4 linked regions of the Homo sapiens genome follow. The protein of the gene in region 3 purifies or fractionates together with the protein of the main gene of each other region. This does not show direct contact. Each region holds a gene or a part of one and is shown on either strand. Other genes may lie near its edges.

What was found.
Region 1: the proteins of TBC1D2 (region 3) and ISCA1 purify together in Homo sapiens (affinity purification with mass spectrometry; one large-scale study listed by BioGRID and IntAct). This does not show direct contact.
Region 2: the proteins of TBC1D2 (region 3) and HMMR purify together in Homo sapiens (affinity purification with mass spectrometry; one large-scale study listed by BioGRID and IntAct). This does not show direct contact.
Region 4: the proteins of TBC1D2 (region 3) and FAM83D purify together in Homo sapiens (affinity purification with mass spectrometry; one large-scale study listed by BioGRID and IntAct). This does not show direct contact.

The regions. Positions count from the first base shown.
Region 1 is NC_000009.12:86,273,861-86,281,653, reverse strand, and holds part of ISCA1 (iron-sulfur cluster assembly 1 homolog, mitochondrial precursor), read left to right. Parts: intron 1-200; exon of another isoform or gene 201-3,437; intron 3,438-7,411; coding exon 7,412-7,465; intron 7,466-7,793. UniProt on the Homo sapiens protein: Involved in the maturation of mitochondrial 4Fe-4S proteins functioning late in the iron-sulfur cluster assembly pathway. Probably involved in the binding of an intermediate of Fe/S cluster assembly.
Region 2 is NC_000005.10:163,482,094-163,489,886, forward strand, and holds part of HMMR (hyaluronan mediated motility receptor), read left to right. Parts: intron 1-510; exon of another isoform or gene 511-548; coding exon 549-695; exon of another isoform or gene 696-926; coding exon 927-1,079; exon of another isoform or gene 1,080-1,174; coding exon 1,175-1,274; intron 1,275-1,975; coding exon 1,976-2,152; intron 2,153-7,157; exon of another isoform or gene 7,158-7,290; intron 7,291-7,793. UniProt on the Homo sapiens protein: Receptor for hyaluronic acid (HA). Involved in cell motility. When hyaluronan binds to HMMR, the phosphorylation of a number of proteins, including PTK2/FAK1 occurs.
Region 3 is NC_000009.12:98,215,502-98,223,294, reverse strand, and holds part of TBC1D2 (TBC1 domain family member 2A), read left to right. Parts: intron 1-2,066; coding exon 2,067-2,462; intron 2,463-3,041; coding exon of another isoform or gene 3,042-3,071; exon of another isoform or gene 3,072-6,091; intron 6,092-6,097; exon of another isoform or gene 6,098-6,374; intron 6,375-7,723; exon of another isoform or gene 7,724-7,793. UniProt on the Homo sapiens protein: Acts as a GTPase-activating protein for RAB7A. Signal effector acting as a linker between RAC1 and RAB7A, leading to RAB7A inactivation and subsequent inhibition of cadherin degradation and reduced cell-cell adhesion.
Region 4 is NC_000020.11:38,947,687-38,955,169, forward strand, and holds the end of FAM83D (protein FAM83D), read left to right. Parts: intron 1-189; coding exon 190-314; intron 315-3,852; coding exon 3,853-4,834; 3' UTR 4,835-5,420; downstream 5,421-7,483.

The sequences.
Region 1 (7,793 bases), about 12 Mb from region 3:
CAGTGTTCCGGCCGCACCGTTCAGTTTTTTAGTGGAAGGAAAATCCACATAACATAAAATTAGTCCTTTTAAAGGGTACAATTCAGTGCCATTTAAGACATTCACAGTGTCGTGCAACCATCACCTCTATCTAGTTCCAAAATACTTTCACCCCAAAAGAAAAATTTATGATCACGTTCCTACATACACTCCCCTTTTAGTGAAGGAGACGACTTTATGCAACCATTCGCTTAGAGACTGGGAAAAAAAACGATTTAAATTGACTCATCGATTCTGTTGCATCTAATGCCAAAAGGGCCTATTACCAGAAAATAAGTTTGTAGCAAAGTAGAAGAAAATTGTGATCAGGTGAGAGAATTTATTTTTATAATCAATTTTTTAGGCCTTTGATATTACCCTGATTATATATGGTACTACTAGTGTACTGATTATGTATCATTCTATATTACCTCTTTTCTGTAGGAGCAAGCTTATTTTCATACACCGTGGGATGTAGAATTAAACAAGGTTTTAAGAACTAGAGGGCACAACTCATTCTTTGTGTCTCTTTCAATCTCAGTAAGAATTATTCAGAATTCTTCCACTGGTAATGGTAGATCCAGGAAGAGCCAGAAGGTTCAGGAACAGTTTTTGCCTTTTCTTTTTTGCTTTTTAGCAACCCTATTAACTGGGTTTTTTGTTTTTTGTTTTTTGTTTGTTTGTTTGTTTTTGTTTGTTTTGTTTTTGGAGACAGGGTCTCACTCTATCTCCCAGGCTGTAGTTCAGTGGTGCAATCATGGCACACTGCAGCGTCAACCTCCTGGGCCCAAGCGATCCTCCCACCTCAGGCTCCCAAGTCGCTGGGACCACCGGTGTGCACCGTCATGCATGCACCTAGGGTCTCCCTGGGTTGCCCAGGCTGGTCTCGAACTCCTGGGCTCAAGCAGTCCACTGCCTCAGGCTCCCAGTGTGCAGGGATTACAGGTGTGAGCCACCATGCCTGGTCCCTGATGTCTTTCTCCATCACCATTTGACATGTTACCTCTTCCTTCAGAATTTCTTTTTTTTTTTTTTTTTTTTGAGACAGGGTTTCGCTGGGTTGCCCAGGCTGGAGTGCAGTGGCGTGATCTCAGCTCACTGCAGCCTCTGCCTACTGAGTTCAAGCAACTCTCTGCCTCAGCCTCCTGAGTAGCTGGGATTACAGACGCCCACCACCATGCCCAGCTTATTTATTTATTTATTTTTGTATTTTTAGTAGAGATGGGGTTTCACCATCTTCACCAGGCTGGTCTTGGACTCCTGACCTCGTGATCCACTCGTCTCAGCCTCCCAAAGTGCTGGGATCACAGGCATGAGCCACCGTGCCTTGCCCTTCCTTCAGAATTTCTATGTCAGTCCCTTTCTCTCCATTCCTAGTCATTCAGCAGACATTTATCAAGATCTGCTGTGTTTCAAGACAAATGAATGAGTTATACAGTTCCCAGCCTACGGGGCACAGTCGCAGGCCAAGCCTTTGCCACCTCTTACTAGGAGTAATAGCACTGCACATTCTCAGGCTTGGTCTCTCTCCACACTTGCTCCCCTCTGCTTCAGTACATGTTATCATAGCAGTTCTCAAGGTATCCATGTTGCCTGACTCAGCTGTTTTGATTAACTTGCAGGAGTCTACTGTCTGTACTCTGTTGTCCTACTTAAGTATGGCTGACTTTAGAAGCTTCTCAGAAGCTGTACCAGAGAGAAGGCACATCAATGCTGTTTTCCACACAGCCTGTGTTGGTGGGCTTGCAGTCATTTTAGTTCCAGCATTCGTGCCCTAGTCAGGACACTATGGCATGTATTGCTCTTTGTGCTTAGTTTATCATCAGCATGTATCGTCAAGTGCAAAAGTAGTGATGCCGTCAAAGGCCTAATGAATGGAGACAGATAAGAGAGCAAACAAAAGTATACGTAATTCAGTAAAACTGATTGGAAGAGGTAAATGTTACTTGGGTCTAATAAGTAGAGACAGATAAGAGCAAACACAAGTATACCTAATTCAGTAAAACTGATTGGAAGGGATAAATGTTACCTGGATATATAAATTTTGATGTTAGGAATTTGACATGTTGCAACATTTGAAAAGTGCTATATGTGTGGAGTCTACCAGATGTCAACAAAAGGCTAGGAAAAGTAACTGATAATATAACACAGTTCAATGCTGTCATTATCAGATTATCTACATCTTCCCTATTTCCCTACATATCTAGAAATTGACAAGTGGAATTGAACTTGCAGGAGCCAGATGTGATTAAAGAATCTGAAGAGTAAATAGTGCCCTGCTTGCAGACAGATTTATTTCCATCATTGTACAAGTCAGAGCAACTCTAATTTGTAGGACTGGGGTGGATCACAGCTGTGCATTAAAACTCAACCAAGTTCTATGAGAGAATGATGGTGCACAGCCACTATCATTCTTGATGAATTCATTGTGTACGGAAGGTGCCTTAGGGCTTAACTTTCTATTGGAGTCCAGTTGAGAAGCTAGGAAATGCTTAATGCTCAGTAAGGAACTGTGTGTTAGTTCATTGGACTAGAACCAGAAGTCCTTTTGAACAGTGACCAAGCACTAAGATTTCTATACGAAGGCAGTTTAGGAAATACTACACAAGAAGCACTGGAAGTAGCCTAGCAGTCTAACAGTGAAAGAACGGTTAAGTACGTGAGAGTAGATCCTGTTGGTGAAGGATGTAGTCATTGTAAATTATGGTTTTTTTTAAGTTTCAGCGTTATAAATCTTCATTCTTTGACTTATGCTGTGCAAATTATTTAATCTTTAATACCTAAATCACAATGGCAGGAATAAAAAGATGTTACGTTTAAACCATTAAACACTTAGAAGGTGCTCAGTAAATGGTGAATATATGTTTATTACCATGTATCAAATGAAAAAATAATTTGTTAAATTGTTTCAATGGAGGCTGCAAAATTATGTATATATGCCATGATTACAAACCTTTTTCTTTTTAGAGACAGGATCTTCCTCTGTCACCCAGGCTCATATGCAGTGGCATGATCATGGCTTACTGCAGCTTCAAACTCCTGGGCTCAAGCAATCCTTTCACCTCAGCCTCCCAAGTAACTGGGACTACAGGCACATGTCACCTTGACTGCTAATTTTTTTTTTTTAATTTATTGTAGAGACAGGGTCTTGCTCTGTTGCACAGGCTGGTCTCAAACTCCTGGCCTCAAGCCGTCCTCCCACCTTGGCCTCCCAAAGTGCTGGCATTACAGGCATGAGCCACCACACCTGGCCTACAAATATATATTTGTATATTATATGTATTTTGGATGTGTATATACACATATACACAAATAAGAAAAGACAAAAGAGAATGCTTTTGTCTTTTCTTATTTTGACACTCTAATGCCAGCCATGGCTGTTAAAGAATGATTTTAATAAAATACACTGTACTTGTTCACTGGCTCTATTTATTTACCATCTTTTGTTCCCCCAGAAAATTGATATGTTGACATTAAAATGCCATGTTTGTAGAGAAATTAAGTTGTAGTTGTTGGCACATGTTTAGTATGCATAATCACAGAGTTAACTTTAGCTTTGAATTTAATTTAATTTTCTTAAACAGCAAAAAATGAAAATTGCCTGGGGAGTTACTTAAAGAAATACAGGATTGAGAATGAAAAGTTTCTCCTACAAGGATTAGAAAGCGTGTTGCTATGAAGTAGTGATAAAACATTCATCTACAATGCCTTTTCCCTTAATTTTAACAGCGGAAACATCTTGGAAATATATTTATTTTTCAATTAGGCCAAAATACCTTACCTCAAAGATAACCTCTCACTTTAAAAGTCATATTCCTGTGATTTGCATGTGAGTAAAAACCATCATATTTTAGTGGGCTTCAGGAAGCTCTTAAATTTTAAAACATGGGCCAAATCTCAGGTAAGCTATATTCATTAATAGTACATAAATTTCTTGAGAATTACATGTTTCTTAGTTGTTCTGGGAAGTGCACTGGTACTGGCAGGCTGCTAGGCCCTGCAGCATGCTGTGTAGTTGAAGATTTTATGCTGTTTCTCACATGAATTTTACCTAAGCACAAAGTTGCCAGAGTATGTAGACTTAAAGCAGGGTAGGATTCTTAGCCTCTCCCTGGTACTGAGACACAAAAAGTACCTCTTATAGCTCGATTTTTTTTAAGTCCCAACTCTTCCCTTTTAACCACTCTCCCTTGTTCTGAAAATCAGATCAGTCACTTTGAAAGTTCTAAGAACCTTTTCCCTTGGTTGAGTACTGACCTGGGTTGTCCATCATTAGTAACACCCTCCCAGTGGAGTAGGTTTGGTTTTGGCCTGGCACAGGAAAATTAAGACATATTTTAGTTCCTGTAACAGCAGCTTCCCAGGCACACAGGTTCCTGTTGAATGTTACTTTTCCCTTAAAGAGTCCTTCAGTATGAGATGTGAACATCAGCAACTTGGTGATAAGTAGACCAATCCCCACGAATTGCTTTCATTTACTGTATTTAAGTGTTTCCTGCTAAAAGTTGAGAAAATAAGAAAATAGATGACTTTGTAAAACCAAATTAGATAATTTAGAAAACCACTTGGAGATAAAAAAAATTATATATTTGGGGCTGGTAAACGGAGTAGTGTGACAGACACATTTGTTTTGTTTAGATCATGCAGTGGTGTGCCCATCTGTGCCTTTGATCCACTCAGATTAAACCAAGACCACGTTTCAGATTTTAGTTCCCGCGGATATTTTCCATGGCTATGCCTTTTTTTTTTTTTTTTTTTTTTTTTTGAGACAGAGTCTCACTCTGTTTCCCAGGCTGGAGTGCAGTGGCATGATCTCGGCTTACTGCAGCCTCCGCCTCCTGGGTTCAAGCGATTCTCATGCGTCAGCCTCCGGAGTAGCTGGGATTACAGGCGCATGCCATCATCCTCAGCTAATGTTTGTATTTTTAATAGAGACGGGGTTTCACCATGTTGGCCAGGCTGGTCTCAAACTCCTGACTTCAAGTGATCCTTCCACCTTGGCTGACCTCAAGTGATACTTCCACCTCGGCCTCCCAAAGTGTTGGGAATATAGGCATGAGGCACCAGGCCCAGCCAGGCTATGCCTTTTTAAAATAAACTTACAGAAAGCTATTTTTATTTGACAGTAAGTGATTAATTTCTTCAGCATGCACATAGGAAAATATGGTGAAAATTTACATGTGGTTGATAAGAAAGCTAGCTTTTATTGACAATCACTTAGAACAGGGGTCCCCAGTCCCTGCGCTACAGACTGGTACTGGTCCATGGCCTGTTAGGAACAGGGCCTCACAGCAGGAGGTGAGAGCAGCAGGCAAGCCAAGCATTACCACCTAAGCGAGCTCCACCTCCTGTCAGATCATCAGGGGCATTAGATTCTCATAGGAGCACAAACCCTAGTCTGAACTGCAGGTGTGAGGGGCTAGTTTGTGCACTCCTTATGAGAATGATGCCTGATGATCTGTCACTGTCTCTCATCACCCCTAGATGGGGCCATCTAGTTGCAGAAAAACAAGCTCAGGGCTCCCACTGATTGTATATTTTGATGAGTTATATAATTATTTCATTATATATTACAATGTAATAATAGAAATAAAGTGCACAATAAATGTAATGCATTTGAATCATTCAGAAACCATTCCCCTTATCCGTGGAAAAATTGTCTTCCACGAAACCAGTCCTTGATGCCAAAAACATTTGGGACCACTGCTTTAGAAGGGTAATGAGCACTTTAAAAAATAATAACTATTTCTGTAACTATTTAAAGTTGGTATTCTGTGACTCAAAAAACAAAAACAAAACCATAATCCTGCTCTTCCCTGTTTTCTCCTTCCACCCTGTGTGCTACTTCCTGCGTTGGAGGACTGCATGCCTCCTTTTCTGACAGAACCATGGGAAACCATGGGCCTTTAGAGGCCCACCTACTGGTAGTGGTTTGTTTTTTTACAGTGACATGTAATAAGAAATGTATATACACAGATACTATATATTAATAACTGAATTAAAAGTTTTACTAAACAACATTCACGTTTTTAAGTGCAGTGCATTGTTTTCTATTTAAAATGTTTAAGACATGTTGGTCTTCACATTCCAAATTGCTTTCATGCCCTTCTAAACTGGGTCTGTACTGTGTTTAAGCATGCTCATCTAGCTGAGCCCCAACCCCGACAGGGCAGGAGAGCACACTCTAGGGCCATCCATTGGGCTGGCTCTTCCAGGTGTCAGTCCTGGCCTCAGTTTACTACCAAGTCTTAGGTCGTAATATCCAGACTTTGAGACTTCACAAGCAGTCTCAAAGACTTTACTGTACAGTAAAATGTCAGTACAAGGGACTGGAGGGCCTGCAGAGCACTGCCAGCTAGAGGAGCTGATAAAGTAGGAAGGACGCACATAATGTCTTCATTATGATGTACTCTCATAATCATAATAATACTTGGTATTTTTGTGCCTGGCACTGTCCTGAATGCTTTCCATGAGTTTAAATATTTAATCCTCACAAGAATCAGGAGGAGGAGGAACTGTTATCCCTGTTTCACCAGTAAGGGAATAGAAGTCAGAGAAGCCACTTAGGGTGACTGCCCTGGAGGCACAGCTAGGAAGTGGGCCAGGAATGTCGGGGAACAGTCTCCTTCCCAAAGAAGTGGGGTTGGCAACACCGACCTATTTCACACAAACTGTGATGTTTTTCTCATTTTGAGGCCCGCTGAGCTATGTTAAAACAGCATTTCTCTGGGAAACAGCTCCTCCTTGTTCTTATTTCTGTCATTGACTAGCTTAGTTTTGTTCATCTAGATCTCCTGAGATGTTGGTTTAATCCACGTTGAAAAAAATCTATGTGAGCATTTGGTGGGACTGGTGCAAGAAGCACACCCTGGGTTATTTTATGCTGGTAACACTGTTTCCTCAAGCTATGCATTTTGATGGATTAGAAATGGATTGTGAGTAAGAAAAAAAAAAGCAGTAGGATTAATAATCAACAGGAAAAACACCTGAAGGTTGGCCTTCCCAGTGAGATACTTGATTCCTTCATTGGCTCTTTGTCGTAGGCAACATGCTGGTTCCTGGGCATAGAGTTGGTGCACAAAATAGATGCTGCCCAGAAAAATAGCATTTGTAATGTGAGTGAATAGCACCATAGAGAGAAGGACAGGGAACCAACCTGGACTGAGGAGCAAGATTAAAAGGATGTTGCTAGCAGATTTTTTTTTTAAATAAAGAGGATATTTTGAATTAGGTATAGTTTATGTGTTTCTATATAAAGTCCATAAGGTACCCTGGCAAGAATGGAACATAAATTTGTCACATGAATTTGCTAAAGACAGACTTACGAAGACTGATAAATATGAGGCTTTGAATAACAAGTTTTGTAGCTAAAAACATCATTTTCTTTTTTCAGACACCTTCAGCAGTAAACAAGATAAAACAACTTCTTAAAGATAAGCCTGAGCATGTAAGTAAAACCAGTTAATTATTCAGTAAAAAACTGAAGCTGCATTTTCAGAATGAATTTATCCCATGATATACAGTATTATTTCATTTAGGGGTTTTTATTTAAAATGTAAAATATACTCAGGATTTTTAAAAAATTCAAATAATACAAAAGGGTATTTAACTAAAAGGAAGTCATTCTTTCAACCTGACTCTTCGTCGTCATTCTTCCTTCCAAGAAGCAATCTCTTTGGTATCCTTCCAGGGATAATGTATACATTTGAAGCGGCTAGACCTGATTTTCTCAGCCTCCTCACAGTTGACACTTTAGGGCAGATTGTAGAATGTTT
Region 2 (7,793 bases), on a different chromosome or scaffold from region 3:
TTTAGTAGTGATGGGGTTTCACCATGTTGGTCATGCTGGTCTCGAACTCCTGACCTCAGGTGATCCACCCGTCTCGGCCTCCCAGAGTGCTGGGATTACAGGCATGAGCCACCACGCCCAGCCTACTTGGACACCTTTAATGGTTCCCGTCTGTCCGCCAGGTAAGCCCACTGTGCCCTGCGGTGATGACCCTCATGCCACCAGCTTCTGCTCCAGCCTTTCTTACTCATTAGGCTCTAGTCTCACTTCTTATTTTTTAAATTGTGAGTAATTTTCATGCTTGGTAGTTGATTTCTTTTCCATCTCTGTATGCATACTTCCTGCACCTAGTAGGCACTTGATTTTTTTTTCTTTGAATACACAGCAGATGCCATGTAAACTCATTAGTACTTGCCTCAGAACACTGAATTCTTACCTGTGTTAAATGCATGAATACATTAAAAACTTTTTAGTTTTACTTAGAAGTATATAAAGTGTAAACTAATCAGTTATGATTGTCATACGCAATAGTTAGAAAACTACTTTGACTTTTTTTTCTTTTTAATAAGCTATAAAGCGTTAACAGCCAGTGAGATAGAAGATCTTAAGCTGGAGAACTCATCATTACAGGAAAAAGCGGCCAAGGCTGGGAAAAATGCAGAGGATGTTCAGCATCAGATTTTGGCAACTGAGAGCTCAAATCAAGAATATGTAAGGTATATAGAGCAAATAATGGCCTTAGAACCATTAAGACAATTTAATGTTGAAAGCCAGCTAGTAACTGTCCCTTGGCTTGCTTTTGGCCATCTTATACTGCAAATTAAGAATTTACTCAGTTAAAAAATGACACTTCTTGAAGAGTTCCTTGAGGTTTAAAGAAAAAAAAAGGAAAAATTAATGAAAGTGGCTATAAAATGTTTAGTGACCTCTTCTCTCTCAAACCAAAGGATGCTTCTAGATCTGCAGACCAAGTCAGCACTAAAGGAAACAGAAATTAAAGAAATCACAGTTTCTTTTCTTCAAAAAATAACTGATTTGCAGAACCAACTCAAGCAACAGGAGGAAGACTTTAGAAAACAGCTGGAAGATGAAGAAGGAAGGTAATCTATGATTAGAACCTGAGTGCCTTGTTAACTCAGTTACGATGTGATTTTTTAAATAACTATGTTTTTCTCAATTTAATTCTTCCATGCAGAAAAGCTGAAAAAGAAAATACAACAGCAGAATTAACTGAAGAAATTAACAAGTGGCGTCTCCTCTATGAAGAACTATATAATAAAACAAAACCTTTTCAGGTTTGTCAGTTAGGAGTAAACTTACTTGTGTTTATTTTAGGGACTCACTTTGTTCCCTATTATAGTGAGGACAGTGACTCGGGTTTTCTGCAAGATCATTTTGCTCTGCACTTACAGTGCCAATTTAGCTCACTATTAAAGGTTTATACATTTTATTAAATTATGCATAATTTTTTCCCACATTATTGAAGTATAATTGACAAATTTAATTGACATAATTTTTTCAATGGACCCTTTGTGGTTTAAAAAAAAACTTTGTAATGTGGAACTTAAAAGTTTGGCTCAGAGGGCTTGCCTGGTATGAGCTTTTGATAATTAACCTATTTTAATTTGTGGTATGACTTATTGCAAATACTCATTGTTTCTCAATATACTGATCTTTTAAAAGAAAAAAGAATAAATGCTGATTTTGGAACTTAGAAGTACAGTATTGGTTATAATGTGGTAATCTAACTGATACAGATAAAACTGGCCAGCTGGCTTTTTTACCTTGTTTCTTTTCCTCTGTTTTAATGATCTTTAAAATGAAAAATACAAAGTTTAAAAGATTCTCATAGAGAATCTATGGAGAGCCCTGAGAATATGTGAACATACCTTGTTTTCATTTGTGTTTTTAATTTTCTTTAGTGTTTATGGTTTATATGAAACTAGTAAGATCAAACTGTTTTAAGTCTTAACTTTATTTAAAAAATCTTTTTCAGCTACAACTAGATGCTTTTGAAGTAGAAAAACAGGCATTGTTGAATGAACATGGTGCAGCTCAGGAACAGCTAAATAAAATAAGAGATTCATATGCTAAATTATTGGGTCATCAGAATTTGAAACAAAAAATCAAGCATGTTGTGAAGTTGAAAGATGAAAATAGCCAACTCAAATCGGTTTGTAAAATGACTTTTCATTTTATTAAAGATATTGGAGTGGGGGTTATTCTAACTATAATACTTAAATAAAATGAATATCTTTGGTATCAGAAAAAAATAACTGTTTATAGAGGAAAATTGAGCTGTGATTTAGTGGATTTATTTTAGAGTGTTGACCAGATGGGCATTCAATGTTCTAAAGTTTTCTAGCTACCTTCTTAATATATTGAAAATTACTTGAGTAATTGGATGAATTCATTAAGCTTTACATATCTATTTCCATTTGCAAAACTGCAAACTCCTTGATGTAAAACCATAAAGAGAAGCAGTGTTCAAAAATATTTGGGCATTTAAATTTTTTAACATATGTATTGAGATATAATTGACAACCCATACAATCCACCCATTGAAAGTGGACAATTCAGTGTTTTTTAGTATACTCACAGATTTGTGCAACCATCACCATAGTCAATTTTAGGACATTTTCATCACCTCAAAATGAAACCTTGTTATCCTTTTCCTAACACTCTCCTATCTCCTCACCCCACCCCACCCTTCAGCCCTAAGAAACCACTAATCTACTTTCTGTCTCTGTTGATTTCCCTATTGTGGACCTGGCATATTCATGGATTCAAATAATATGTGGCCTTTTGTTACTGGCTTCTTTCAGTCAATTAGCATAATATTTTCAAGATTCACCTGTGTTGTAGCATGGAGAGTACTTTATTTTTTTTATAGCCTAATAATTCATTATGTGGGTATACCACATTTTATTTATTCGTTTGTCAGTTGATAAACACTTGTTTGCACATTTTTGGCTATTATGAATAATGCTACCATAAACATTCATGTACAAGTTTTTGTATGGACATTTGTTTTTTCCTGGGACATATTATTTCCCTGGGAAATAATAGGAGGGAAATTGCCAGATCATTTGATAACTCTACATTTAATCATTTCAGGAAGTATCAGACTACATTCAGATGAGATCGGGTGCGTTCAGGGTGGTATGGCCATAGAAAGGTCAGGCTGTATTCAAAAGTGGCTCATACCAATCTATATTCTACAGGCGGTGTACGAGGGTTCCAATTTCTCCACATTCTTACCAACATTTGTTATTATCTGACTTCTTTATCCTAGCCATTGTAGTGGGTATGAAGTGGTATCTCATTAACTTAACTTGCATTTTCTTAATTGGTAATGATGTTGGTCATCTTTTCATGTGCTTACTGGCCATTTGTATATCTTCATGAAAGAAATGTCTGTTTATACTCTGCTCATTTTTAAATTGGATTATTAGTCTTTTTATTATTGTGAGAATTCTTCATCAATTCTGGACACAAGTCTCTTATGTATTATTTGCGAATATCTTCTCCCATTCTGTGCATTGTCTTTTCACTTTCTTGATGATGTCCTTTGACCCAAAAAACTTTTATGACGTCCAGTGTGTCTATTTTTTTGTTTGTTCGTTCCTTGGTATCTATCTCCTCTGCCAAATTCAAGGTCAGGAAGATTTACCCCTGTGTTTTCTTCTAAGAGATTTATAGTTTTAGCTCTTACATTTAGATTATTGATTGATTTTGAGTTAATTTTTGTATGTGGTGTGAGGTAAGGGTCCAGCTTCATTCTTTAGCATGTGGACATGCAATAGTCCCCACACTATTTTTTAAAGAGAATATTCTTGCCTCCAGTTAATGGAGTTAGCATCCAATTAAAAAATCATTTAGACTGTACATGTATGGATTTATTTCTAGACTCTCAACTGTCTTCCATTGATCTATACATCTATCCTTGTGCCACCACACTGTCTTGATTACTGTTGTTTTGTAGTAAGTTTTGAAATCAGGAAGCGTGAGTCCTCTTTGTATTTTTCAATATGGTTTTGTCTATTCTGGACCTCTTGCAATTCTATATTAATTTTGGAATCAGTTTTTCTACAAAGAAACCAGCTGGGATTCTGATGGGAATTGCATTGAATCTGTAGATCAGTTTGGGACATATTATTATCTTCACTAGGTTAAGTCTTCTAATACATGAATATGGGATATTTTTCCAATTATTTAGATCTCATTTAATTTCTTTCAACAATGTTTTATAGTTTTCAGAGTATAAGTTTTCCACTTCTCTTGTTAAATTTATTACTATTTTATTCTTTTTGATGTTTTGTAAATGAAATTGTTAATTTCATTTTTGGATTGTTGATTGCCAGTGTATAGAAATACAATTGATTTTAATATATTTATCTTGTATCCTGCACCCTTGCTAAACTCATTTTAGTTCTAATAGTTTTTTAGTGGATTCCTTAGGATGTTCTTATAGATCATGTCTTTTGCAAATAGAGATAGTGTTACTTATTTTCCAATCTGGATGCCTTTTATTTCTTTTTCTTGTCTAATATCTCTGGCTAAAACCTGTAGTATAATACAGTGTTGAATTTAGAAGTAATGAAAATGGATGGACAGCCTTGCTTTGTTCCTGATCTAGGGGGAAAGCATTCAGTCTTTCTCCATGATATATGATGTTACCTGTATGATGTATATAGCGTGACATTATTAGATGTTGATTTGTTGGCCAGCCGAGGTGGCTTACGCCTATAATCCCAGCACTCTGGGAGGCCAAGGCAGGTGGATCACCTGAGGTCAGGAGTTTGAGACCAGCCTGGCCAACATGGTGAAACCTCGTCTCTACTAAAAATACAAAAGTTAGCTAGGTGTGGCGGCGGGCGCCTGTAATCCCAGCTACTTGGGTAGGAGAATGGCTTGAACCCAGAAGACAGAGGTTGCAGTGAACCGAGATGGAGCCATTGAGCCTGGGAGACAACAGCGAAACAATCTAAAAAAAACAAAGATGTCGATTTGTCATAGATGCTCTTTATCAAGTTGAGGAAGTTCCCTTCTGTTTCCTAGTTTGTTGAGCATTTTTATATGAAAGGGTAATGAATTCTATCAAGTGCTTCTTCTATTTCTATTGAGATTATCATGTAATTTTTTTATTCTGTTGATATGATGTATTTTATTAATTGATTTTTAGATATTAATCTAACCTTCTGAGATAAATCTCACTTGGTTATGGCATATAATTATTTTTATATGTTGCTGAGGGGTTTTTTTCAGCCATATTCCTAAGATATACTGGTCTGTAGGTTTTCTTTGCTTTGTTTTTGTTTTTTTAATGTCTGTCTCATTTTGGTATCAGGGTAATGGTGACATCACAAAATGAGTGAGAAATGTTCCCTCTTTTCTATGTGGAATGGTTTTTGAATAATTGGTATTAATTCTTCATTGAATGTGTGGTAGAATTTATTGGTGAAGCCATCTGGACCTTGGTTTTTCTTGTGAATATTTTTTGGTTACTAATTCAATATCTTTACTTGATATAGGCTTATTCAGATTATCTCTTTCTTCTTGATTCGGTTTTCTTCTTGAGTAGTTTATGTCTTTCTATAAATGTGCCTAATTTGTTGGTATATAATTGTTCATAGTATTCCTTTATAATCTTTTTTTTATTTCTGTAAGGTCAGTAGTAATGGCTTCTCTTTATTTCTGATTCTAGTAATTTGAGTCTTTTTTTTTTAAGTTTCTTTCTTTTTTTAAATTTTTAGTGGAGAAAGAACTTTATTTTTTTGTTTGGTTTTTGGGTTTTTTTAGAGACAGGATCTCACTCTGTCACCAGGCTAGAGTGCAGTGATGCAATCACGGCTCACTGCAGCCTCAACCTCCCTGGGCTCAGGTGATCCTCCCACCTCAGCCTCCCAAGTAGCTGGGACTACAGGCGTGCGCCACCACATCCGGCTAATTTTTCTACTTTTTGTAGAGACAGAGTTTTGCCATGTTGCCCAGGCTGGTCTGGAGCTCCTGGGCTCAAGGAATCTACCAGCTTTGGCCTCAAAATGCTGGGATTATAGGCTTGAGCCACTGCACCTGGCCAAGAACTTTTCTTTTTTATAATTTCATCTTTTATTTTAGATGTGGGGGTACATATGCAGATTTGTTACATGGGTGCATTGCATGATACTGAGGTTTAGGGTATGACAGGTCCCGTCAGCCAGGCAGTAAGGATAGTACTCAATAGGTGGTTTTTCAGCCCTTGTTTAATGGCTGAAAAATCCAACATCCGATTACTCTCAGACATTTTTTCTCCTTGTGTCCAAATGTATAGGTTATACTTTTCTGTTTATTGGCATGCCTTGTAATTTTTCATTGGAAAGTAAATTTTTAGATCATATATTGTAGCATTTCTGGGTACAGCTCCCCCTCCTTTTGGGGGCTTTTTATTTGCTTGTTTGCTTAATGAGTGGCTCAATTATTTTAGGGAAACATATCCCACTACCTCCCCAGACCCCAACAGTATTGTGCCTCTGATGTTGCTGTTCAGGGAGGTACAGTTTTAGGTGTGCCCACAATTACCCTGGGATGACACTTGCTTTGGTAGGGCTGCCTTCCTCTCTTTCCGTGAACATAGTGACTGTAAACTCCAGTAGATGCTGGCTCCTTGCTTGATTATTTGCAACAGTGCCTTAGGGCATAAATTGCTCTATAAACTAATCCAATCAAATTCTGGCTCCTTTGTAGGGATTGCATACGAGAGCAGTGCTGGATATTTATTCTGACTACAGAAGGGCTCGTCCCAGCTGTCATATTCCCTAGTTTTCTCCTGCAAACTAACTAGCCTACTGTTCAGCCTGTATCTTAAATCTCCTCCCATTTCTCTCTCACTATAACCACCACTGTTCTTTAATGGTTCCCCAACCTTTTTGGCACCAGGGACCAGTTTTGTGGAAGGCAGTTTTTCCACAGACCGGATCACCCAGCTTGTGATGGGTTTATGTGGATGGTTTCAGGATTAAAGTGTTCCACCTCAGATCATGAGGCATTAGATTCTCATAAGGAGCATGCAGCCTAGATCCCTCACATGTGCATTTCACAATAGGGTTCACACTGCTGTGAGAATCTAATGCCGCAGCTGATCTGCCAGGAGGGGGAGCTCAGGGGGTAATGCTTATGCTTCCTGGCTCACCACTTACCTCCTGCTCTGCAGCCGGGTTCCTAACAGGCCTTGGATGGGTATTGGTCTGTAGCCCGGAGGTTGGGGACCCCTGCTTTAGAGCACCCTTAGGCTTCAGCTTCTCCAAGCTCTGTTGCAGGTGAAGTCAGTTCCTTTGAAAAGAAATGAGGAGCTCCCTGTTTTATGGCCTACTTGTCTTTTCCGCCCTCCTTTCCCCCTCCCCCGACAATATCCCTGAGCCAGGACTAGAGCTGAAATTGGGGACAATGGCAGTTTTCTCTCTGAGTGACATCCTCTGCCCTAGGAGCTGAGTTTTCAGTGGACTTGTGGGGAAGAGATGAGGAATAGCCTCAGGCCCTCTTGAGTAACCTCCTGGTGTAGAACCATCCCCCTCATGAGCCAGAGAAAGAGTCATCGGGGCCCAGCATTTTCAACACACTGTGCCCAAGGTGAGCCCCTGTTCCATGAATGGGGCTGACTGGAGGAAGGGATCCCCCACCTCACAATTGCATTTGTCCAGGATATAACTGCAGCCACAGGGAGCTGGGGACAAAATGAGAAACTCTGATGTCCTGGTCCTCCTGGGAGGGAAGCTTCTGACTCGGAGTTGGGGGAAAAGAGGGCCCTGTGCTTTTGGCTGTAGCCGTCTGGCGTG
Region 3 (7,793 bases):
ACATCTGGAGGGCCATCCCCACCCTCATCTCCCACCTGCTGCTCGACCATCTCTGGCCCTTCTCATTCTTCACAGTTTCTTTTAAATGCTCTGGACTGGTATTCCCCACAACCTCCACCCCAGACAGAAGTCATTGCCTTTCCCACAAACACCCTTGTTCCCCTGACTTGCAGTAGATCATTCCACTGTGGTGGGTCATGTTCATTCCCACCAGCCTTTGCAGTCCTTGGAGGTGGGAACTCTCACCACTCCCTCTCTGGGCCACGGCACCTGGCTCAGGGCCTGGCCTGGCACCGAGTGGTGCTTGGTAAAGGTTGGATGGATGGATGGGCATGTGGAAGGAAAAGAGAGAACCAGAGAAAGGATGGTCACTAGTCCTAAGGTTTCAGAAGATGCAGGCTAATGTGGTCTTGTCATTAGCTTCTCCAAAAAAGTCATGGTTTTTGGCAGTTTTCCTCCAATATAGAATTGTTCTTAGCAAATAAGGCTATCCAGCCAATCCACTCATTTTAATACTTTGGTGTGGTATAGTTGACATGTCTCTAGGAAACCATGTTTTTCCAAATGAGAAGCACAGAGCAGGGCAGTGTTGCCTGAAAGTCATACCTACCTGGTATTAGTTCCACGTGGACCTGGCTGCTGATGTCCTGATCCTGGCCCAGAACAAATTCACATCCCTGCTTTGGGACAGATAGGCCTGAGTCCAGGCGTGGCCCTCCCTGGGGAAATTACAGGCTTAAAGGCACAGGGAGCTGAGCAGACCTTGAGTTCCTGTGTGAATTAGTTGCCCCTGCTGAGGAATAAATCAAGCTCTATTGTTTCTGAACTTTCTAGAGTTCCTTCCACCAGCTTTGCAGGCATCGGCTGGTGGGCTGAAGGTAACTAGGCACAAATGGCTTGAATGAGGTCCTCTGTGTGTGGCTTTACATGGGGATTGCCAGTGTATTTCCTCTTTAACCCTGACTCAACTTGATTGGTAGTGACTGGCTGCTATATTGAGAATGATTCTGAGGCCTCAACTAGGGTAGGCTGTGCAGGAAGAAGTATGGGAGATTAATTAGTGATGTCTGCCACAGGGATGAGAGGGAAGAGTAATGCCACATAGCTGCCACCCCTGGTTTTCTTAGTTACTGAGCACAGGCTTTGGAATCTAGCCAATTGAGATTGAATTCCATTCTACTCTCTGCTGGGCCTCAGTTTGTTCATCCCTGAAATGGATGTGTATATGTCAGGGTATGGGTTCAGCTGCTGTGACAAAAACATCTCCACTGGGTGTGGTGACTCATACCTGTAATCCCAGCACTTTGGAAGGCCAAGGTGGGCAGATCATTTGAGTCCAGGAGTTTGAGACCAGCCCGGCAACATGGCAAAACCCCTTCTCTACAAAAAAATACAAATATTAGCCTGGTGTGTTGGCATGTTCCTGTGGTCCCAGCTACTTGAGAGGCTAAGGTGGGAGGATCAGCTGAGCCCAGGAGATTGAGGCTACAGTGAGCCATGTCTGTGCCACTGCACTCCAGGCTGGGTAACAGAGGGAGACGCTATCTCAAAAAAAAAAAGTTTCAAAGCACTGTGGCCCAAAACGAGTGAGAGGTTTCTCATTCACATTAAAGAACCCAGAGGTAGGTGAGCAACTCTGAGCTGGGGGGCAGCCCTTTCTCAACATGTACCTTCTGCTGTGGGTCTGAGGCGGCCACTCTAGTTCCTGCCACTTCCCAGCCAGAAGCAAAGAGAACTGGACCAGAGGAGCGTGTATCTAGTGGTTTTAAAGGTAGGACCCAGAAGCTGCCCATCTCACTTTTCATTTCCCATTTAGGCAGAATAGTTACTTGGCTACACCTCACCATGGCTTGGCTGGGAGATGCAGTTTTAAGCTGGGGAACCATGTGCCCAGCTAACAGTCACTTGAACAGAGAAGGAGAAAGTGAGTGTCAGGATGAGATGCCGCAGGGATGCTGCTGGGCACCTCTCACGGTTGTTAGGAGAACTACTGATAACATATACCCCACTGTGGCGCCCAGCAGGCCCTCCCTGAGCTCACAAGATTCTTCCCTCTCCCTGCCCAGGAGCTAGTGAAGATCCTGCACAAGGCACTGGAGGCCGCCCAGCAGGAGAAGCGGGCGTCCAGCGCATACCTGGCGGCGGCTGAGGACAAGGACCGGCTGGAGCTGGTGCGGCACAAAGTGCGGCAGATCGCGGAGCTGGGCCGGCGGGTGGAGGCCCTGGAGCAGGAGCGGGAGAGCCTGGCGCACACAGCGAGCCTGCGGGAGCAGCAGGTGCAGGAGCTACAGCAGCACGTGCAGCTGCTTATGGACAAGAACCACGCCAAGCAGCAGGTCATCTGCAAGCTCTCTGAGAAGGTCACCCAGGACTTCACGCACCCCCCTGACCAGTCTCCTTTGCGCCCCGACGCTGCCAACAGGGACTTCCTGAGCCAGCAGGGGAAGATAGAGCACCTGAAGGTAGGGGCCTCCCCTCAGGGCCTGCCAGTCCTGCCGGTCCTCTGTCCCAGCCCTCAGGGAAGGTGCGCTCTCCACCCCTAAGGGTTTGCTAGGTGGAGTGGGGATACCCCTTCATCCTAGAATATTCACATTAGAAACACATGTTGATGGGAATATTGCTCTACGCTTCTTCACTTTCTTTACCACAAGGCCCAGTGCAGTTTGCCTGGGCCTTGATTGACCCATTAACCAGTAGCCCTGGTATCCTGGGCTACTGAAAAGTGAAGGTGCCTCTAGATTATCAAATGAGAGATGAAAGCCTGACTAGCTAAGTGTGGGGCCTGGCCTGGTCAACCTCCCTTAGTGCCATCCCAGTGCACCCGAGAGCCCTAAGGGGCCAGCACGACCCTCCCCCCACAGTCCTGCGCCTGCACACTGTACGGATGACCTGCAGCTGCCAATAGTCACTGCTCCCATCTGTAGAATTTATAGGGTGTTTCCTGTGTGCCAGGCACTGCCCTCGGTGGGTGCATCGCCACATTTAGTCCTCGCGCCAGCCCTGTGAGGTGAGGCAGCCGCTGGTGTGCTCCCCCTTTACAGATGTGGAATGCTGAGGCTGAGAAAGGTTAAGGAGCCTGCCCAGGGTCATGTGCTGAAGAAGTGGAGGAGCTGGAGCTGGGCTGGAGCTCATGTCTGCGGTCTGGTCTGTCTGCTCAGCTGCCGCTTCTAGCTGCTGCCACCATCCCTGCTCCTCCTTTCCTCCCCTTCCTTCCCCTTCTCTGTCCCTATCTTTCCCTAGGCTTCCCCACCCCACAGGGACCAGTGATGTCACAGGAGGTAGGAACTTTATGTGAAGTGTGTTGCCTGCCGTGACCCGCAGCCTCCTCTCTAAAGGGTTGTGACAGGAACTGTCCCACTGGGAGGCCTGTGGCTGTGGAGTGCACTCATAGCCTCCACTGTCCGTAAAGGGAGCCATACAACCAGAGTTCGTCCTGCCCCAAACCCTGCCACTCACAACCACATATGTACAGTCAGATGCCATATAACAGGCTGCATATGTGATGGTCCCATAAGATTACAATGAAGCAGAAAAATCCCTGTCACATAGTGACATCATAGCCGTCATAACATCATAGCACAACATGCTACCTTTTCTATGTTTACATGTGTTTAGATACACAAATGCCATTATGTGACAGCCACCTATGGTATTCAGTACCGTAACAGGTGCACAGGTCTGCAGCCTCGGAGCAATAGGCTACACCATCTAGCTGGGTGCGTAGTAGGCTAAATCACCTAGGTTTGTCTGCGTCCAGTCTACAATGTTTGCACAACAGTGAAATCACCTAATGACGCATTTCTCAGAGTGTATCCTCATAATTAAGCCACACGAGACTGTACATATAGACTTATAACCTTGAGAACTCTCATGCTACTCTATCAAAGAACTACTCGGTGAGGGCAGATGGAGAAAGAAAAAAAAAGAAATCAGGAAGCTTTTGAGAGAAAAGCTCTCAGTGGGCAGTGTTGAACAGTGGCCACCACCCAAGCTTTGAAGTCAGACTGACCTCTTTGACTCTTGGCTCTGCCTCTTTCTGGCTGTGTGACTTTAGGCATGTTAGCTCACCTCTGTGTCAAATAGCCCAACTAGTCCTCTTGACTAGGGCTGTTAGAAGGATAAAGGAAAAGGACGTGAAACCTGATTCCCTTCCCTTTCTTTCAGCAAAGACTGAAAACCCACATAACCAGTTCCCGAATCTTTTCCCTTATTTAGTCTGAAATCAGAGATTCTTTTGGGTTAAAAGAAAAACATAACCTTTCCAATGCAAATGCAGCCAGATGATTAGAAAGCTCTCAGCCCTCCACACAGCAGGGAAAACTGCTTCCATCTGATTGCTTTTCTACCCTGCCTGCCCCCAGCCAGGCGGCTTCCTCTTCTCTCCACCCATACTGCCGGAATCCACTGTGCAAGCCCCGGTAGAGCAGCACAGGGGTCAGAAAGATTTGTGGTGGCGCACGCCTGTGTTCCCGTCTACTCTGGAGGCCGAGGTGGGAGGATCGCTTGAGCCCACGAGGTGGAGGTTGCAGTGAGCTGAGATTGTGCCACTGCACTCCAACCTGGGTGAAGGAGTGAAACACCATCTCAAAGGAAAAAAAAGAACACTAGATCAGCCAGGTGGCTCCAGACAGCCTGAGAGTTGATTGTAATCATGGACTCACTAGGAGACTGAGTGTGCCCCTGAATTTACATATTCAGGAATTTTATTTTTTTTTATTTTTATTTTTTGAGACGGAGTCTTGCTCTGTCACCCAGCCTGGAGTGCAGTGGCGCGGTCTCGGCTCACTGCAAGCTCCGCCTCCCAGGTTCACGCCATTCTCCTGCCTCAGCCTCCTGAGTAGCTGGGACTACAGGTGCCCGCCACCATGCCCGGCTAATTTTTTTGTATTTTTAGTAGAGACGGGGTTTCACCATGTTAGCCAGGATGGTCTTGATCTCCTGACCGCGTGATCTGCCTGCCTCGGCCTCCCAAAGTGCTGGGATTACAGGTGTGAGCCACCGCACCTGGCCATGAATTTTCTTTATCAGTGAGCTCAGCTACATGGAGACTCTGGGTATGTGATTCACATTAACCAAGAATACACTTGCATATGATCCTCAGAGGCCCAGTGTTTTGTGCTTTGTGCTTTAAAGGGTTGCATAAGGCCAGGCATGGGTGGCTCACACCTGTAATGCCAGCATTTGGGGAGGCTGTGGCAGGAGGATTACTTGAGGCCAGGAGTTAGAGACAAGCCGGGGAAACATAGCAAGATCTCATCTCTACAAAAAATTAAAAAATTAGCCAGGCACAGTAGCACGTGCCTGTAGTCCCAGCTACTTGGGAAGCTGAAGCTAGAGGATTGCTTAAGCCCAGGAGTTCATGACCAGCCTAGGCAACATAGCAAGACCCTGTCTCTAAAAAAAAATAAAATAAATTCACTAGGTATGAAGGCACCCGCCATAGTCCTAGCTACTCAGAAGGCTGAGGTGGGAGATTACTTGAGCCGCCCAGGAGTTCGAGGCTGTGGTGAACTGTGATCACGCCACTGCACTCCAGCCTGGACAACAGAGTAAGACACTGTCTCTATTAAAAAAAAAATAAAAAAGAGAAAGAGTTGCATGTAGTTGGTGTTCCTTAGTTTTTAGCTTTTAGAATACCCATCAAATATCCATTGTCTTGAGTTTGAGGACAGAGAATGTTGAGGTTTCCTGCCTGCCCTGTGATTGAGGAACCCAACTTTAGGGAATGCCCCTTGTTATTCAGACTTTGGTTTTGAGAACAGGATCACTGACCTCTTGAATATCAGATCTGGAAAGACTCAGAAATCTAGTCTGCCCCACTCATTTTCTGGCAGGGACAGCTGAGCTGGGGCAAGGGAGAAGGACTGGCCCAGGGTCAGGCAGCAAGAGGCAGGGCTACAGCCGGAACCTGGCCTCCCATGCCCAGGCCACTGCCTTCCACACAGCACAGGGCCTAGTCCATGGGCATGGCCCAAAGAGAATTCCCGGGCTCCTGCTTCCCTGGTCCCCCTTCTCCAGGGTTTTCCTTCTTTCATTCCACTGGTGACTGTCCTGTGGCTTTTCTCTTTTCTGAGGTTTCTCTTTTTCCTCCCTACAGTTCTGAGCCAAGACGAGCACTCAAGGTAGGGCATCGAGCTGGAGGGGGAGGTACTGCCCGACGCCACCCACTGCCACTGCTGTTCCAGGCTGTGCTCACTCTGCCTCCCTGTCCGGCATGTCTGTGCCTTCCCTAGAGCTGGAAGCAGGGTATCTTATGTGACAAAAGCCTTCTTTCCAAAGCCTTAGAAATAACAGTGTGTAGCCAAGCGTGGTGGCTCACAATCCAGTGCTTTGAGAGGCCACGGTTGGAGGATTGCATGAGGCCAGGAGTTTGAGACCAGCCTAGGCAACATAATGAGACCTTTTTAAAAAATTAAAAATTAATTAGCTGGGTGTAGTGGCACACACTTGTAGTCCCAACTACTCAGGGGCCTGAGACAGGAGGATCACTTGAGCCCAGGAGGTCAAGAGTGCAGTGAGCTATGATCATGCCATTGCATTCCAGCCTGGGTGACAAAGTGAGACCCTTTCTCTAAAAATAAAAAAAGAAAGAAAAATAAATAAATATCCATGAGCACATCTAGGCCTGGGAGGAGGAAGGGGTGATATCAAGGAGGGAGACCCAGTGGTGTGGAGCAGTGGCCAGCGCCAGAGCTGGGTCTGCTTTCTCTACGCAGTGTCTGCTGAGCACCTGCCATGGGCTGAACACACCTGGGTTTGGATCCTGGCTCTCTTTCGTGACAAGGGGAACTTACTTTCTCTGTGTGTGTTTCCTCATCTGTTAAATGGGAATTAGGGCACTTTAATAGTTATCCCACAGCCTTGTGGATATGAGGGAGATGGGTCAGGTCATGGTAGGTCCTTTCCTCCCTTGCGGGGGGGCTTGTTGTATTTTCCCGGGCATTGGATTCCGAACTCTGTGAGCCGACTGAGGGGGTGGGTGCAGGGTGGGGAATAGTAGCTCTCGAGCTGTCATGCAAACTCAGTGAGGGAGACGATGCTCACGCTCACGTTGCACTTGCCACATGCCAGGCACCGTTCTGAGCCTTTTGCACATATTAACTCACTGAATCCTCTCCCAGCCACATGAGGTAGTACTGTTATTATCCTCATTTTCCAGATGAGAGGATGAGGTTAAGTAACTTGTCCAGGGGCTCAGTGGTCAAGACAGAATTTCCACCCAGACAGCGTGCCCGCAGCATTCATGCCACTGACCACCAGGCGGTGCCGGTACATGGCCAACTCCAGCGTCTTTGATGTGTTGTTATACTGTCTGATGGGTAGGAGAGGTCACATAAGCCTGCATGCGTGTAGCCAGGAGACACCAAAGGACAACGCTTGGAGGGTAGGGACTAGAGTGTGGGCATCCAGGTGGATTCCAGCTGGTGGGGAGCTCAGATGGTGCCCGGCAGGAAGTTTGGTGATTAGGGCTTTAGAATGAGACAGTCCTGGCCAGGCACAGTGGCTCATGCCTGTAATCCTAACACTTTAGGAGGCCGAGGTGGAAGGATTGCTTGAGGCCAGGAGTTTGAAAACAGCCTGGGAAACATAGTGAGACCTCGTCTCTACAAAATCAAAAAATTAGCTAGGCATGGTGGTGCCTGCCTATAGTCCCAGCTACTTGACAGGCTGAGGTGGGAGGATTGCTTGAGTCCAGGAGGTCGAGGCTGCCATGAGCTATGATCACGCCACTGTACTCCAGCTTGGGCGACAGAGCAAGACAAACAAACAAAAAGAATCAGACAGACCTGGGT
Region 4 (7,483 bases), on a different chromosome or scaffold from region 3:
CACTTGAGGCTTGAGAACTGTCTGGCTAGTGTACCATGTATACTGTCACTAAATGGTGACCCTAAGCCACGCATATGCCAATAATTATATCTGGGAATTGTAAACTAAGGCTTTTTGTCCTAACCATTTGCTCAGCAGATGAGTATTGCTGAATTGTTCATTTATATTTCTCCCACTCCCTGCCAACAGTTAATGACAGTTCGGACTATCACAGGAAATATCTACTATGCAAGGTCAGGAACTAAGATTATTGGGAAGGTTCACGAAAAGTTCACGTTGATTGATGGCATCCGCGTGGCAACAGGCTCCTACAGGTAAGTCTCTAACCCGTCCAAGGCTTATTAATCTAAACTCTTCAGAAGAAGCATGTCATGTAAAGGTAAAAGCCTTTTCCTCTCAATGGGAGCCTGTATGGCCATGCATTCTGATATGCGTGCATCTGTGTATAGCAGCTGGTTATCAAAGCCTCCTGTTAGAGGCAGTTTGGGTGGGGGTCACTTCCCCTGTCCTGTAGTCCATAGATTAAAATGCAGAAGTTGAACTTGTATTGAGACAACACAGTCAGCAAGTCCTAGATTTCAAGCCTTGGCCCAGGTCTGCAGGGGACGAACTGGGGGTTAACAGCAACACACAGTCTGGAATCCTGGTTCCTTAGGGATCTGGACCCAGCTTGCCCTGCTCACTTGAAGGTAGGGGCAGTTGCAGGCATCTCCATTAGTGTTGAAGGCAGAGCCAGAGCTGTCAGCTTTAGACTCAAATCCTCCACGTTGCTTCAAGCCTTGTAATTTAGAGCTTTAGTCTAGAAAATACTGATTATGTTTCTGACCCACCTTTGAAGTGTCACATTGGCAATGGCATCTTAAGGTAGAGAGCAGGAAGGTTGAAGAGAGGGTGGGGATAATGAGCGGTTTACATGAATCTCTAGAATTTGTGCCATTTGTACATATGTGGCTCCAATGGTTGTATGTTCTGCCGCCTCTGCGGTAGATTGTCTGATGGTTTGCATGAGGTGTGTCTGTAGAATTTTAAAAAGAAAACCCCATTTTTGAAGAAACACACAACCCTGAGTGATAATTACGTGTCAGCCCTGGGTAAAGGTAGAAATGTGAAGGCTTGTGGAAAATGAGGCAGTAAGATCAAGAAAATCTTGACACCTTTCTTTTTCAACAGTACCCTCATTGCTCAGAACAAAATTTGAACTTTCTTCACCAAAGAGGCTGTGGGAAAAAACAAATTGAACTCTTTTTCTTGGAATTTCCTTTTGTAAGAAGTTTATTAAAAAAATTTGTTTTTAACCTAAGTAGGATTTATCTATATTAACCAAACTTAGCTACAAATGGACTTTTGCTGTTCTAAAATATAAAAACTACCCTCTCCAAATGAAATTGATGACGATGATAGCTTCCATTTGTTGAGGAGGTTTTATAATCTTGGTGTTGGATAGGTGCTTTATTTACATTATCTCATTGAAGGCTTTCTTTTTTTTTTTTTTCGTGATGGAGTCTTGCTCTGTTGCTCAGGCTGGAGTGCAGTGGCGCCATCTTAGCTCATTTCAACTTCTGCCTCTCAGATTCAAGCGATTCCTGTGCCTCAGCCTCCCGAGTAGCTGGGACTACAGGCATGCCACCATGACTGGCTAATTTTTGTATTTTTAGTAGAGATGGTGTTTCGCCACGTTGGCCAGGATGGTCTCAGACTCCTGACCTCAGGTGATCCGCTGGCCTCGGCCTACCAAAGTGCTGGGGTTACAGGTGTGAGCCACTGCGCCCGGCCCAGCCTCATTGAAGGCTTTCAAAAGAATCTTCCTTCTCAGGCTTTGAAGGCAGTTTTCAGGGGGACTTTGCATTAGCCATATCTTGGTTACAGGAGACAGAGTTGACTGTGTTCTATGATCTCTGTTTGAAACCTACTTCTGGTACAAATACCACCATTAGTGGGGTGATGGCAAGTGTCAGCTAACTCTCAAACGTACTGACTCGAAGAACCCGGAAGGAAGCATAGAAAGGTACAGTTGGTTTTCAGTTCATCTTGACGTAGGAGCCACACGCTGATCAGAACACTATATCCTGGTTCTGATGTTTTCGAGTTGACTTTTGTTCTTAGGCAGGCTCTCCCTTTGAAGTCAACGATCCTGGCTTTGTTTATTTTTTGTTTTTGAGACAAAGAGTCTTGCCCAGGCCGGAATGCAGTGGACGATCTCGGCTCACTGCCAAGTTCCGCCTCCTGCGTTTACGTCATTCTCCTGCCTCAGCCTCCCGAGTAGCTGGGACTACAGGCGCCCGCCACCACGCCCAGCTAACTTTTTTTTGTATTTTTAGTAGAGATGGGGTTTCACTATGTTAGCCGGGATGGTCTCAATCTCCTGACCTTGTGATCCGGCCACCTTGGCCTCCCAAAGTGCTGGGATGATAGGCATGAGCCACCGTGCCCAGCCAGATCCTGGCTTTCTTATATGGCCTTTAGTAGCTGTCTCCCAAAGGGTGAAACTCTTTCACTCAGAATTACTATCAATCCCTTCTGTCAGAATCCATTTGATAAAGAAAAAAGAAATCTCTGAAAACTTACTTGGCTCTGGTGGGATCACATGCCCACCCTGAATGAATCCCTGCATCCAAGGGAATAGGATACTCTGGCCAGTGTGGACCACATGCCTGCCCCTATTGTGGTTGGAGAGAGTATGATAATGAAAGCTTTCTGGGGTACAGGTGGGTGTGAGTTCTGCTAGCAGAGGAGGGAGGCGGGGAAGGGACACCGTACAGGCAAGGGCACATGGCCACTAATCAGCTCTAAAATGTTTTGAGCCATGGTGTTTTGTGAAAATGGCAGCACAGCCCCATGACTGTGGGTCCTCCACTGTTAGTGAGGAAGACTACTTCAGCAGCCACAAGGACAAGCTTGAGGGCAGGAAGGCCACTGATGTTGCCACTCAAACAGTAGCAAGGAGCAGGGCATTAGCAATTCATAGGGCCTAGGGTCTGATCTGGAGTCCAGCAGTAGCTCCCCTCTGTGATAATCCCTTTATCTGGTTTCCTTACCTTTAAGATGGGGGTGCTGGCCTAAATAGTTTTCTTACCTTTAAAATGGGGATGCTGGCCTAAATATTTAGAAGCCCTATTTTTTATTTTTAATTAATTTTTTGAGATGGAGTCTCGCCCAGTCATGGAATCTCGCCCAGTCATGGAATGTGCAGTGGTGTGACCTCAGCTTACCGCAACCTCTGCCTCCGGGGTTCAAACAATCCTCCCACCTCAGCCTCCCGAGTAGCTAGGATTACAGTCATGCACCACCACGCCTGGCTAATTTTTTATGTGTTTTTACTGGAGACAGGGTTTCACCATGTTGGCCAGGTTGGTCTTGAACTCCTGACCTCAAAGGATCTGCCCACTTCATCCTCTCAAAGTGCTGGGATTACAGTCATGAGCCACCGCGCCTGGCCCCCTTTCCAGTTTTTAAAAACTCTGAGGCAAGGACCAGGTGAGGTGGCTCACACCTGTAATCCTAGCACTTTGGAAGGATGAGGTGGGAGGACTGCCTGAGCCGAGGAGTTCAAGACCAGCCTGAGCAACATAGCAAGACCCCGTCTCAAAACAAACAAACAAACAAAAAAACCCTCTGAGGCTGAGCATTTAGTGTGTTTGTTAAACAGTTGGCCTTTTTACTTTTATGGTAACACACATAAATGTTATATATGTGTTAAGGCTAGTTAAATACATGCAAATGGTAGGTATGATATCACCAAATTTGTGACCCTTATGTGGTAAGATACCTGTACTATATTATTCAGATGGACAGTGAGTAAAACAAAATTGCTCATCCTTACCAGCTGCTGTTTGTTTCTTTTTAATCTTTAAGTTTTACATGGACGGATGGCAAATTAAACAGCAGTAACTTGGTAATTCTGTCTGGCCAAGTGGTTGAACACTTTGATCTGGAGTTCCGAATCCTGTATGCCCAGTCCAAGCCCATCAGCCCCAAACTCCTGTCTCACTTCCAGAGCAGCAACAAGTTTGATCACCTCACCAACCGAAAACCACAGTCCAAGGAGCTCACCCTGGGCAACCTGCTGCGGATGCGGCTGGCTAGGCTGTCAAGTACTCCCAGGAAGGCGGACCTGGACCCAGAGATGCCCGCAGAGGGCAAGGCAGAGCGCAAGCCCCATGACTGTGAGTCCTCTACTGTTAGTGAGGAAGACTACTTCAGCAGCCACAGGGACGAGCTCCAGAGCAGAAAGGCCATTGACGCTGCCACTCAAACAGAGCCAGGAGAGGAGATGCCAGGGCTGAGTGTGAGTGAGGTGGGAACACAAACCAGCATCACCACAGCATGTGCTGGTACCCAGACTGCAGTCATCACCAGGATAGCAAGCTCTCAAACCACGATTTGGTCCAGATCGACCACTACTCAGACTGACATGGATGAGAACATTCTCTTTCCTCGAGGAACTCAATCTACAGAAGGGTCACCAGTCTCAAAAATGTCTGTATCGAGATCTTCCAGTTTGAAGTCTTCCTCCTCTGTGTCTTCCCAAGGCTCTGTGGCAAGCTCCACTGGTTCTCCCGCTTCCATCAGAACCACTGACTTCCACAATCCTGGCTATCCCAAGTACCTGGGCACCCCCCACCTGGAACTGTACTTGAGTGACTCACTTAGAAACTTGAACAAAGAGCGGCAATTCCACTTCGCTGGTATCAGGTCCCGGCTCAACCACATGCTGGCTATGCTGTCAAGGAGAACACTCTTTACTGAAAACCACCTTGGCCTTCATTCTGGCAATTTCAGCAGAGTTAATTTGCTTGCTGTTAGAGATGTAGCACTTTATCCTTCCTATCAGTAACTGCTCCGTGTTCAGACTCCTGGTTTCTTCCAGGCTTACAGTGGACATCATCAGCTTCCTGCTTTAAAAAATATCTTATGTCCCTAATTGCCTTTCTTTTACCTGACTTTGTCACCTTTGTTGTCTTTGAATTCTTTAGGCTGCATATTATTTTACATGCTTTGTTTTGTCATGTATATACCAGGTATTGGTTTTATGGTTTAAACACTATGGATACAGGGGTTTGTTTTGCACAATTTTAATAGTCATGCACTACATAATGATGTTTTGGTCAATGACAGACCACGTATATGTTGGCAGTCTCATAAGATTATAATACTGTATTTTTACTATACCTTTTCTGTGTTTAGATACAAATACCATTATGTTACAGTTGCCTACAGTATTCAGTGCAGTAACATGATGTACAGGTTTGTAGCCTGTTTTGCATTTTTCTTAGGTTGTATGCTCTTCTGTTTTAAAGGTTTGAATCACCAGCATTTTTGTGATCAAAATCCTATTTAGAAAAAATAAAACTACTTTCTGTTTATCTCTTTAGAATATCTGTGTTCTTAGCATTAAATAAATATAAACTTGTGCTTCTGTACTTTTTCCCCCCCTCTGACACTTTTCTCTTTAAATCTGGGAGTATGTCACAAATTAATGCACCTAATAGATATAGGTATATAGATATCTATATCTGAAGGTTTTTTAAATAGTGTCAGGGTGAGGAAGAAGTAGATGATCCAAACTATAGAAGAGAAAATAGATCCACTTAACCTTCCTCAGCATCATGAATATTGATGTTACTCTATAGTTTAAGTGAGGAAACTGGCCAGAAATAGCAGGCCTTTGCACATGCTCTGCCTTTTCTCTTTTCGAAGAAAAAGCCTGAGCTATTTCAGTAGGTCCTTGGTACTCTGGTACTCTGCTTGTCTACCAAAGGAGGCGTTAGTGTATGTTCCTATATTCATTCCCAATATTAACTCTGGTGGCCCCATGGGCCTCATTTCATCAGCTGGGTGTATTGACAGTGATTTAGCCATCTAATATCCCAGAGTAGGGGCAAAAGAGGACACTGACAATTATCCCAGTTTCCTGGTCCAGTGGCAGGCAGTGTAATGGTTTCTACATCCTTCTAATCAGGATTGGTATGGCTGTGGAATCCTGTTTTTGTCTCATTCTCATGGACAGACAAAAGGGAAGAGAGTTAAATGATGCCTTCCTCCCTCTCCTGACTTAGCTACAGCAAAAAAGATCTATAACAGGGGAAGGTGTCTGCCACATAAAATGCTGATGCACTTGTATCATGAGTGTCCCTACACTCACGCGTGTGCCAGGACTTCCTTATGATGGTCAGGCTATTTGCTGGGTTAGTGCTGTAATCTGTGGCTATAAAGAAAAGGAAAGGAAGGAAATTGATCCATGTCTGCTTAGAAACAACTCTGAGCTAAGCCTCGAGTAAACATATTGTTATTTGAAATCATCTTACAGACTTAAGTCACTTCATATATGCCATCTTTGATCTTTGCAGCAATGTAGCAGAGAGCTATGCAGGTTAGGTAGCTGTTATTTCCAATTTTCAGATGAAACTGAGGCACTGATTAAGTAGCATATTCAAGATGACATGGCTTGTAAATGGTGATGCAAGAATTTAAACACAGGTTTCTAGATTCTAAGTGCAGTACTCTGTTACATGACTATTTCTCTACACGGAGTATGGAAGCAGGAGAGAGTGTACCTTGAGAAATGGCAGTTACTGCAATGGTGAATGGAAAACTAAAACAGCCTCATTAACAAACGTTAAGTACAGGCTGGGCGCGGTGGTTCACGCCTGTAATCCCAGCACTTTGGGAGGCTGAGGTGGGCGGATCACCTGAGGTCAGCAGTTTGAGACCAGCCTCAACATGGAGAAACCCTGTCTCTATTAAAAATACAAAATTAGCTGGGTGTGGTGGTGCATGCCCCTAATCCTAGCTACTCGGGAGGCTGAGGCAGGAGAATTGCTTGAACCTGGGAGGCGGAGGTTGTGGTGAGCCGAGATCACGCTATTGCACTCCAGCCTGGGCAACAAGAGCCAAACTCTGTCTCAAAAAAAACAAAACAAAAACAAAACAGCAAAAAAAGCAAAGTACAACAAAAAAAAGTAAGTACAAAGTCCTAATCTGTGATACTTCTTTTTGTTTGTTTTTGAAGCAGTCTCGTTCTATTGCTCAGGCTGGAGTGCAGTGGCACAATCACAGCTCACTATTTTTTTGTAAAGGCAGGGTCTCACTATGGTGCCTAGGCTGCTCTTAAACTCCTGGGCTCAAGTGATCCTCTTGCCTCAGCCCCTCAAAGTGCCGGGATTACAGGCATGAGCTACTGCATTCAGCCTGTGATAATGTATTTTAATTTAGTTTGAAATTTTAACTGAATGTTCTATGGAACTGTTAATAGGATGACATAACAAAGGTTCTGTGTTTAGTGTGAGAAACTGGGCCAAAGAAATGTAAACAAAGTTCTTTAATGCAGGACTACTCAGAACTCTGAAGTAATGATCACAGTGAATTTCTCAGAGCAGGGCAGGTATATGGCTTACCACAAACTACCTACCACAGAGTGCTCTTTTTGTGGAGCAGGACTCAAAACCATTATTCTCTGAAAGTGTGGCCAACAATTAGAAATAAG